Homo sapiens: one gene and its partners. The gene in region 3 interacts genetically with the main gene of each other region. Each region holds a gene or a part of one and is shown on either strand. Other genes may lie near its edges. The genes, in order: WDR82, RUVBL1 and MCM2.

Evidence for each region.
Region 1: changes in MCM2 (region 3) and WDR82 together harm fitness less than expected from each alone (positive genetic interaction), as found in Homo sapiens cells (one large-scale study listed by BioGRID).
Region 2: changes in MCM2 (region 3) and RUVBL1 together harm fitness less than expected from each alone (positive genetic interaction), as found in Homo sapiens cells (one large-scale study listed by BioGRID).

What each region holds. Positions count from the first base shown.
Region 1 is NC_000003.12:52,261,503-52,265,155, forward strand, and holds part of WDR82 (WD repeat-containing protein 82), read right to left. Parts: intron 1-3,653. UniProt on the Homo sapiens protein: Regulatory component of the SET1/COMPASS complex implicated in the tethering of this complex to transcriptional start sites of active genes.
Region 2 is NC_000003.12:128,080,296-128,083,200, reverse strand, and holds the end of RUVBL1 (ruvB-like 1), read left to right. Parts: intron 1-626; coding exon 627-718; intron 719-1,791; coding exon 1,792-1,951; 3' UTR 1,952-2,391; downstream 2,392-2,905. UniProt on the Homo sapiens protein: Possesses single-stranded DNA-stimulated ATPase and ATP-dependent DNA helicase (3' to 5') activity; hexamerization is thought to be critical for ATP hydrolysis and adjacent subunits in the ring-like structure contribute to the ATPase activity.
Region 3 is NC_000003.12:127,604,883-127,608,535, forward strand, and holds part of MCM2 (DNA replication licensing factor MCM2), read left to right. Parts: exon of another isoform or gene 1-13; coding exon 14-274; intron 275-1,235; coding exon 1,236-1,455; intron 1,456-1,727; coding exon 1,728-1,935; intron 1,936-3,499; coding exon 3,500-3,634; intron 3,635-3,653. UniProt on the Homo sapiens protein: Acts as a component of the MCM2-7 complex (MCM complex) which is the replicative helicase essential for 'once per cell cycle' DNA replication initiation and elongation in eukaryotic cells.

The DNA of each region.
Region 1 (3,653 bases), about 75 Mb from region 3:
GAGTTGATGCGAAATATTAGCAAAAATTGGATGTGAATTCTAAACCACTCTGCCTATCTATACATATATATACCTGTTCTCCCAAAATTGCCATTTTAAGAAACACAATAAAACACACATACCACAACCATATCTGGAACAAACAAAGGCAACTAGTATAAAAAAAAAAATTTAAAGCTACAAAATAAAAATATATGATTCCAATGCAAATCAAAACCACAATGAAATACTACTCCACACCCTCTAGCATAGCTATAATAAGAGAGATAACAAGTGTTGGTGAGGATGCAGAGAAATTGGAACCCTCATACATTGCTAATGGAAATGTAAAAATGGTACAGTTGCTTTGGAAAAGTTTTTCCAAAAAAAGTTACCACGTGACCCAGAAACTCCACTCCTAGGTATTTACCCAAGATAACTGAAAATATATGTCCACACAAAAATGTACACATATGTTCAGATCTGCACTATTCATAACAGCCAAAAAGTAGAAATAACCCAAATGGTCCATTAACTAATGGATGGACAAACAAAATGTGCTGTATCTATACACTGGAACATTATTTGGCAATAAAAAGTAATAAAGTACTGCCTCATGTGACAACATGGAGGAACCTTGGGAACACCATGCTAAGTAAAAGAAGCCAGGCACAAAAGATCAGATATGAACTGATCCATTTACACAAAATGTCTAGAATAGGCAAATCTATAAAGACAGAAGTAGATCAGCAGTTGGTAGGGGCTGAGGGAGTGATTACTAATGGGTACAGAGTTTCTCTTTGGAGTGATAAAAATGTTCTGAAGTTAGATGATGGTGATAGTTGTCCAACTTTGCAAATATAGTAAAAACCACTGAACTGTACATTTTTAAAGGAATCATTTACAGTATGTAGACTGTATCTCAATTAAAAAAACACAAAAAAGCATGATTCCTTATCAAGATGTGTGAGGACTACACAGATATTCTCAAACCTAAGTGGCATCAGCATCACCTGGAGGGTGGGTTAAAACAGACTGCTAGGATCTGCTCCCAGAGCCTCTAATCCAGTAGGCCTGACTTGGGGTCTGTGAATCTGAGTTTCTAACTAGCCCCCAGGTGATGGGTGAGGCTGCTGTTTTGGGCACCACACCTAGAGAACCACAAGCCTATGCTAACAGCAACTGTATTCCTTTTTTGGTTCCCTTTTGTGGTTATACCATCAAGAGACACTCACTGAAAAACATTTTCTTCCAATGTAACTCAACTAACATCTGCACCAGCTCCTCAAGTTAAAATTTTAAAAGGTATTGTTAAAAGCCAAAATTTCCTGAGAATGCTGAGGAGGTAATAAAACACAATGAGCAGGCCAGGTGCGGTGGCTCATGCCTGTAATCCCAGCACTTTGGGAGGCCCAGGTGGGCGATCACCTGAGGTCAGGAGTTTGAGACCAGCTTGGCCAACATGGTGAAATCCCACCACTAATAAAAATACAAAAATTAGCCAGGCCTGGTGGCGTACACCTGTAATCCCAGCTACTCAAGAGGCTGAGGCGGAAGAATCGCTTGAACCCCAGAGATGGAGGCTGCAGTGAGCCAAGATCACACCACTGCATTCCAGCCTGGGAAACAGAGCAAGGCACCGTCTCAAAAAACAAAAATCAGAATGAGCAGAACACGTTGTGGACATGTAATTTTATGCCATGGCATTCAGCCCAAGAGCTCAGCACAAGACTCTATGCTGAGAAGTACAGGGAACACATGGAGAAGTAAGACCCCGACCGTAAGGAATTTTAACTGTCCAGTCCACATGACTCCAAGAGGACCAGAGAAGGCTTCTGGAAAGATACAACATCTGAGGTAGAAAGGATTTCAAAGAAGTAGCCCAGAGTTCACCTTAATGGGAATGGTGGGAGAAAATGCTGAGAAAATGGGTCAGAGCCAGAAGGGACAGAACCTGACTACAAGGGGAAGGAGCAATGAAAATATAGAGAACCATTAAGAGAGATTGTGAAGCAATCAAACTGCAATCCAGGAAGCTGAAACAGGATGGTAAGAGATGGGAAGATTAATTAGGAGCTAACAATAATTTACCTCACAGGGCATGAGCCAGGGCAGAAGCAAAGGAGAGAACACAGAGGAAAGTGACACATGAGGTTAAACCTAGGGAGAACTAAATAGTTTAACAACTCACTGAATATGATGGCAGGGGAAAAAGAGTGAACTAACAACAGATGCTTTGAGCCAGAATTGGAAGAGACAGAGATGAATAAATATGAGGAAGACAGAGAGAAGCTGGCCCAAAAAAGGTAACAATGATGGACAGAGTACTGGACCTGAGTATTAGAAAGAGTATTGGACAGAAGAGACAGCTACAAAGATGTGTATAAAACATGTAGGTGGTGCTGGGTGCAGTGGCTCATGCCTGTAATCCCAGCACTTTGGGAGGCTGAGGCGGATGGATCACCTGAGGTCAGGAGTTTGACAGCGGCCTGGCCAACATGGTGAAACCCTGTCTCTATAAAAACACAAAAATTAGCCGGGCATGATGGTGCGTGCCTGTAATCCCAGCTATTCGGGAGGCTGAGGCAGGAGAATCGTTTGAACTCAGGAGGTGGAGGTTGCAGTGAGCCAAGATCATGCCATTGCACTCCAGCCTGGGTGACCCGGTGAGCCTCCATCTCAAAAAACAAAAAAACAAACAAAACCTGTAGGTGGAAGGCGGGTCTGAAACTGATAATAGACATGAGCTAAAAATACTGATTTGGGAAGCCACCTGAATGGAGGTAAATGAAATCAGCGATGGAGATAAGAAAGCGGATAAAATATTTGTTTATTTTAGAGTCAAAACAGAGGCTGAAAACTACAAGAACAGAACCGACATGGGAAAAGTCACCTGCCACGGGAAAGTAAGTTTTACTGAGAGGTTAAGCACCAAGAAAAGCCCAAACCAGTGGCTTTTTAACTAGAGGCAGCAGGGAATGAAGGATAAAGGTTTGGATAAAGCCCCATAGACGATTCTGGGACTAGTGCAAAAATGATTTCAACAGTGAACATGTGTGAGGAGGTGGAGATGGGAATGTACAGATTCTTCTTTCAAGTTTGATAGTGAAAAGGAGTGGGTGATAGGGTCAATAAGTAGATTTAAGATAAGAAAGACCAAGTAAATTTGTAGGCAACAAAGGAAAGGCCAATTAAGGAGATGGAAGCAAGCAGAAAGAGGAAGGTCTGTTTTGTGAAAGAAAGACAACAGCTTTCTCAAGGAAAGGATTCCAAGGAAGACAGAATTTAGGTGGAAGGGATAGATGTTTAAAAGAACTCTTTTTTTTGGAGACACGGTCTTGCTTTGTCACCCAGGCTGGAGTACAGTGGCACAATCATGGCTCACTGCAGCCTCAACCTCCCAGACTCAAGCGATCCTCTCACCTCAGCCTCCCAAAGTGCTGATAACAGGCCTTAACCACCACACCCAGCTGAAATAACTCATTTTGTATAGCCTTGATTTTCTCATAAAAGGAGGGACAAAGTCATCTATCAAGAATCAGGAGGTCGGCCAGCCGGGTGCGGTGGCTCACGTCTGTAATCCCAGCACTTTGGGAGGCTGAGGCGGGCGGATCAGGGACCATCCTGGGTAACACGGTAAAACCCCATCTCTACTAAAAATACAAAAAACTAGC
Region 2 (2,905 bases), 480 kb from region 3:
CCACCGTGTTACAGCATCCCCGCCGCCAGCCTGCCTCCCCTCCAACTCTACCAAGATCTTCAAACTGCAACAAGCGTCAGCCTCTTCTTGATAGATTAGATATCTCCCGGTGATGTTATGAGGCCTGGTAAATCTTTAAAAGTAACTGTTTTGATTTATTTAACCATCATATTTATCAAGCAAATAAAAAATGTCCCTTCTTGCCTGAGTGCTTGTAGGCAGTAGTGCCCATGCTGGAGAGGAAGGTTAGAGCCCTTGCAGGAGCCCCGGGTAGGTTAGAAGAGGCCCCAGTTCTCTGCCTGGGGACAGGGGACGGGAGGACATGGAGGCAAGAGTGAGCCACTTGGGAAGCTGCATACCTCCTTGGGCACCAGCCACACTTGAGTCAGTTGAATACAGCACACTGGCCGTGATGCTATTCATGCATACTGCAGGGCCGCACATGCCTCCTGGAGGGTGCCGGGCCGGCAGTGCTGGGCAGGCGTTGGCTCCCTGCCCACCAACCCAGGTCTCAGTTTCTCTTATGCTGCACAGTGAGAAATCTGAGCAACATTGTCTTTAAAGCACTTTAGAAATGGGGCACTTGAGGTCAGTCACCGTTGATCATGTTTTTTATCCTTTAAAAGATCATTAAAATCCGTGCCCAGACGGAAGGAATCAACATCAGTGAGGAGGCACTGAACCACCTGGGGGAGATTGGCACCAAGACCACACTGAGGTGAGCTGGTACCCTGGGCCCGCCGGGGCCTCCCCAGCACAGCCAGGGCCCTCGCTGGGGTCATTCTGGACAATAAAGGCAGGTCCCTTCCTAGGGCATGGGACTCTATCCATCCGCTCTTCCTGGCGCGATGGGTGCCAGGGCACTTGAGTTTCAAATGCAGAGGATCTATCTGATGGTTTTTAACAAGCTAGAGTAAGGGTGAAGTCCCCATGTCCTGCAGCAGATGCTCCCCTCTGGTGGAGAGTGCTTTGACCCTGGGCCTTCTTGTGGCAGAGAAGATGCACAGAACTAGAGAGCAGGGACCATGTGGTAGCTCATTAGCCAGGGCCCTGGCTCCTGTTCTCCCGGTGGTGTTATGAGGCCTGGTAAATCTTTAACTTTTTTGATTTATTTAACCATCAAGCAAATAAAAAATGTCTGGGTGGTGGATATGGAGAGCCAGGGAGGAGCGCAGACATAGACAGTTCTCCTAATTGTTCTCCAGCGGCTCAAACACAGGACCGGCAGAGCATGTCCCTTCACAGTGGCCTGACTCATTGTAAAATCATTGCTTCACAGTCCTCAGCCCTTCCCTACATCCCTTGAGTCAGTTCTTGCTCCTGAGGTTGAAGGCAGAAATGCAAGCTGTGAGGTTTGGATGAAGGGGTACTTTTTAAAACGGCAGAGTCTTCATGCCTTTGGATGGGCATGTACTTCCAGCTGGCTATGTTTTCATTTCCCTGCCATGTTAAATATCCCTATCTGTCGGACACCTGTATACATATAAGTTTGCAGTCCTTTTCCAGTAGCAGTGACATTACTTCCTACTGGAGGATTTGTAGACTGTACTAAAGATTTGGGGAATAGCACTTATGTCTTCTTGGTGGCTCCTGGACCCTCTCTGATGGGATAATGACTGCAGCTCTCTGAGAAGTGACAACTTTGTCTCCCCTTTTCTGTGTTCGTAGCAGCTGGCACAAGCCCAGCACTGGGCTCTGCTCCTGGTGCCAGTGCTGCCTACTGATGTGGGGGGAAGGTGCTTTCTTCGGTGGCCCCAGTTTCACTCCAGCCCTGGCCCCTGTCCACTCTAGGTACTCAGTGCAGCTGCTGACCCCGGCCAACTTGCTTGCTAAAATCAACGGGAAGGACAGCATTGAGAAAGAGCATGTCGAAGAGATCAGTGAACTTTTCTATGATGCCAAGTCCTCCGCCAAAATCCTGGCTGACCAGCAGGATAAGTACATGAAGTGAGATGGCTGAGGTTTTCAGCAGTAAGAGACTCCCCAGGTGTGCCTGGCCTGGGTCCAGCCTGTGGGCGCTTGCCCCTGGGCTTGGGGCTGCCGTCCCCACTCAGGCGTGGTCTGCAGCGCTGTCAGTTCAGTGTGGAAAGCATTTCTTTTTAAGTTATCGTAACTGTTCCTGTGGTTGCTTTGAAAGAACCCTTCCTTACCTGGTGTGTTTTCTATAAATCTTCATAGGTTATTTTGATTCTCTCTCTCTCTCTCTCTAAGTTTTTTAAAAATAAACTTTTCAGAACAGTTTTAGATGTACAGAGTCATTGTGAACATACAATAGGGAGTTCCCATGTATCTTGTACCCAGTTTCCCTTCTTGTTAACGTGTTACATCAGATAGCACATTTGTCACCGTGAATGACCAATACTGATGCATTATTCTACTGCGTTCACATTTTCTCAGTTTTACCTAATGTCCTTTTTCTGTCCCAGGATCCCATCCAGGATAACCCATTACAACTAGTTGTCATGTCTCCTTAGATGCCTCTTGGCTGTGACATCTTCTTAGATTTTCCTTGTTCTTGATGACCCTGACAGTTTTGAGGAGGACTGATCAGGTATCTGTAGAACATCCCTCAGTTGGGGTTTGTCTGATGCTTTTCTCATGAGTAGACTGGGATTGTGGGTTATGGAGAGGAAGACTAGAGGTGAAATGTGGTTCTGATCACATCGTATCATGTGTGGTTCTCATCACATGCTAGCAACATGACTCATCGTTGATGGTGAGCTTGACCCTTTGGCTGAGGTCATGTTTGTCGGGTCTTCTCACTGTAAAGTTACTCTCTGCTGCCTTTCCATACTGAATTCTTTGGAAGGAAGTCACTATATGCAGCCCACACTTAAGTGGCAGGGGTTATGCTCACCTCTAGAGAACTGAGTATTTACCAAAATTATTTGGGATTCTGCATGGA
Region 3 (3,653 bases):
CTTGCCTCCCCAGACAGCGATGAGGAGGACGAGGAGCGCCCTGCCCGCAAGCGCCGCCAGGTGGAGCGGGCCACGGAGGACGGCGAGGAGGACGAGGAGATGATCGAGAGCATCGAGAACCTGGAGGATCTCAAAGGCCACTCTGTGCGCGAGTGGGTGAGCATGGCGGGCCCCCGGCTGGAGATCCACCACCGCTTCAAGAACTTCCTGCGCACTCACGTCGACAGCCACGGCCACAACGTCTTCAAGGAGCGCATCAGCGACATGTGCAAAGGTGTGGCTTCCCTACGCCCCCGCCTCAGCCCCTGTAGCGCCTCCCTAAATCCTCCCCAGAAAGTTGTCTGAGCCGAGTGAACACGTGAAGCACAGGGCATATGGCTGAGAGGTCTGTCAGAGAAACCAAAAGTTTTGAGTTTTGCATCAGGGCTCTCCTGCTGGCTATGCAGTGACCACATCTGGGCCACCAAAGCGTTTTTTGACAAGCTTGAAAATGGACAGATTTTATATAAAAATCTGGATTACTACTTTGATCTTTGTAATAGGAATTGACTCTTTTTTTTTTTTTTTTTTTTTTTGAGACGGAGTTTTGTTCTTGTTTCCCAGGCTGGAGTGCAATGGCACGGTCTCGGCTCACTGCAACCTCCGCCTCCTGGGTTCAAGCGTTTCTCATGCCTCAGCCTCCCGAGTAGCTGGAATTACAGGCATGCACCACCATGCCTGACTAATTTTTTTTTTTTAGTAGAGAAGGGGTTTCTCCATGTTGGTCAGACTGGTCTCAAACTCCCGACCTCAGGTGATTTGCCCGCCTTGGCCTCCCAGAGTGTTGAGATAACAGGCGTGAGCCACCGTCCCCAGCCAGGAATTGACTTTTAAAAGGGACATGTAGATCTTGATTCCTGCAATTCCTTCCACTGCTTTTTGTCCTGTGTTTGTCAGTTTCTTCCTGGCTCTTGTAAGGCGTTTCATGTTTGTAGCTGTGTAGGCACTCTGCTCATATTTAATTTAACCCCCCAGCAACTTTGTACACTGTGTGACATGCCCATTTTACGGAGTAGGAAGTTGAAGCTCAGGCTATGTCACAGCTGAAGTGTGGTAGACCTAGAAGTGAAAGCTGGGCTTTCTAGGTCAAAATCAATGGTCGGGGTGGGTAGGCCTTGCTTCTCACACAGGCATTGTTGCAGCCCAGCCCAGGCCTCATGCTTAGTTAACTCTCTTCCCACTGTGCCCCCTTCTAGAGAACCGTGAGAGCCTGGTGGTGAACTATGAGGACTTGGCAGCCAGGGAGCACGTGCTGGCCTACTTCCTGCCTGAGGCACCGGCGGAGCTGCTGCAGATCTTTGATGAGGCTGCCCTGGAGGTGGTACTGGCCATGTACCCCAAGTACGACCGCATCACCAACCACATCCATGTCCGCATCTCCCACCTGCCTCTGGTGGAGGAGCTGCGCTCGCTGAGGTGAGCTGAGGGCAGGTGAGGATGGCAGGTCCGAGCTCAGTGCTGGGTGACTCGGTCGTGATTCCTGAAGAGCGATTGTGGTGTGGGCGGGGAGGGTGCAGCCAGCAGCATCCTCATCGCAGGTGAGTTGTGGTTGCACAGGAGTGTGATGGGAGGGATCTTCCCGGGCTGGGGGCTGGGCCCAATTTCCAGGACAGTGTGTTGGGACACTCTCGTCTGCAGCCTGGCCTCACCCTGGCTCACGGCTTCTGATGCACCCTCTGCCTCCGCAGGCAGCTGCATCTGAACCAGCTGATCCGCACCAGTGGGGTGGTGACCAGCTGCACTGGCGTCCTGCCCCAGCTCAGCATGGTCAAGTACAACTGCAACAAGTGCAATTTCGTCCTGGGTCCTTTCTGCCAGTCCCAGAACCAGGAGGTGAAACCAGGCTCCTGTCCTGAGTGCCAGTCGGCCGGCCCCTTTGAGGTCAACATGGAGGAGGTGAGAGAGGACACAAGGTCTGCTGCCAGCTGTCCTTAGGGGTGCCCAGTATGCAGGACCTGACTGGCCTCTCAGGCTGTGGAAGACCAGTGTGGGCAGCCGCAAGAAGCAAGATAGAATTGTGTGTTGGCCACACCCTGGGGTGGACCCAGTCTGTCTGGCCAGTGGACTTAGCTTGGCCCACACGACGTTTTTAGGAATTCAAGTCAATATTTAAGTCAGGCGATTTGTTTAAACCATACAAGTTTATGGCTCCTCTTGAAACATGAGAAGATCTGGCAAACAGGGCCCACTTCTTGCCAGGTCACTCCTTCAGGATGTGTGCTTACCAGTCTCCATGGTGCCATCACTCACGTGGGGTGGCTGCAGTCCCATCGGGACTTCCCCTCAGCTTGTTTCTGGGACCTGTCTGGCTCACGTGGGGCCCCTGGACCATACCAACCTCCTGCACCATATTCAGGAGACGCTGCCAAAGCCTCTGATGTTAAGGTCTTAGGCACATGTAATGTGCCTTTGTACTTGAGCGTCCCTGTAAATGGGCTCATCGCCATCGCTGTGGTGGCGCCCAGGCCCCTTGACTGCCTTGCTGCTGTGGCTGTTGGCTGTCCTCTTCTCACCGCTCTGCAGTGCAGTTCTGCGAACTGTCCCAGCTGGAGCCACCTTGCCAGAAAATGCCTCAGAGGTTCCACCTGTGGCCACCTACAGCCAAAAGCTGACCCGTCTCGTCTCGGGTGGGGCAGCTGCAGGCCAGATGCCAGCTGAGCCACGTCTTTGCTCACTCTTCCCATGCCCTGTCTGTCTCCCTCAGGCCTTGCTTCTAGGGACCTGAGATAGTACCTGGTAGAGGGTTAACAGTTACAGCTATCATTCATGGAGTAACTTACCAGTGCCAGGTGGTGGGTGGTTTATTACCTGGTCCTTTTTCACAGCTCATGAGGCAGGAACTGTTACTGGCCCCACTTTGCCGAGTGTTTAGAGAACTGGCTGAGGTCACCCAACCAGAATGTGTGTTAGAGGTCCACAGCTCAGGCATCTTGATCTAGAGCATGTGCTTTTAACTGCAGTGCCATGTTGTGAGATAATGGGTACGAAATGACATGGCACAGTGCTGGCCTGTGATACTTGACAGTGACAGCCAAAACTTCCTGTAACTTAACATTTATCAGATGCTGGATTAGGTTGATGTATGTATGACTTGCTTTAATTCTTATTGTGAGGTTGCAGAGAAGGCACAGAGAGAGGAAGTCACTTGCCCAAGATCACACAGCTTAGACACAGAACCCAGGCAGCCTGGTTCCAGCATCGGTACTCAAGACAGCTTAGCTGTAAAGCATAGAGCAGGTGCTGAGTCTGGCCGTCAGAAGGCATCCCAGAGGGATGGTGTGGCAGGAGTGGGGACTGTCAACTGATGTGCTGAGTCGCCATGAACTCATTCCTTGCTGTCTTTGGCTCTCCATTTGCCACTCAGGAGTCGGAATCCTGCCTGTTCTCCCTCCTGTTCGGGGGTCAAGGTTAGGTGACATAGTAAGTCAGTGATTTGAGGCCTTCTGTGTGTCCCTCGCAGACCATCTATCAGAACTACCAGCGTATCCGAATCCAGGAGAGTCCAGGCAAAGTGGCGGCTGGCCGGCTGCCCCGCTCCAAGGACGCCATTCTCCTCGCAGATCTGGTGGACAGCTGCAAGCCAGGAGACGAGATAGTAAGTGGCCGGGGCAGGC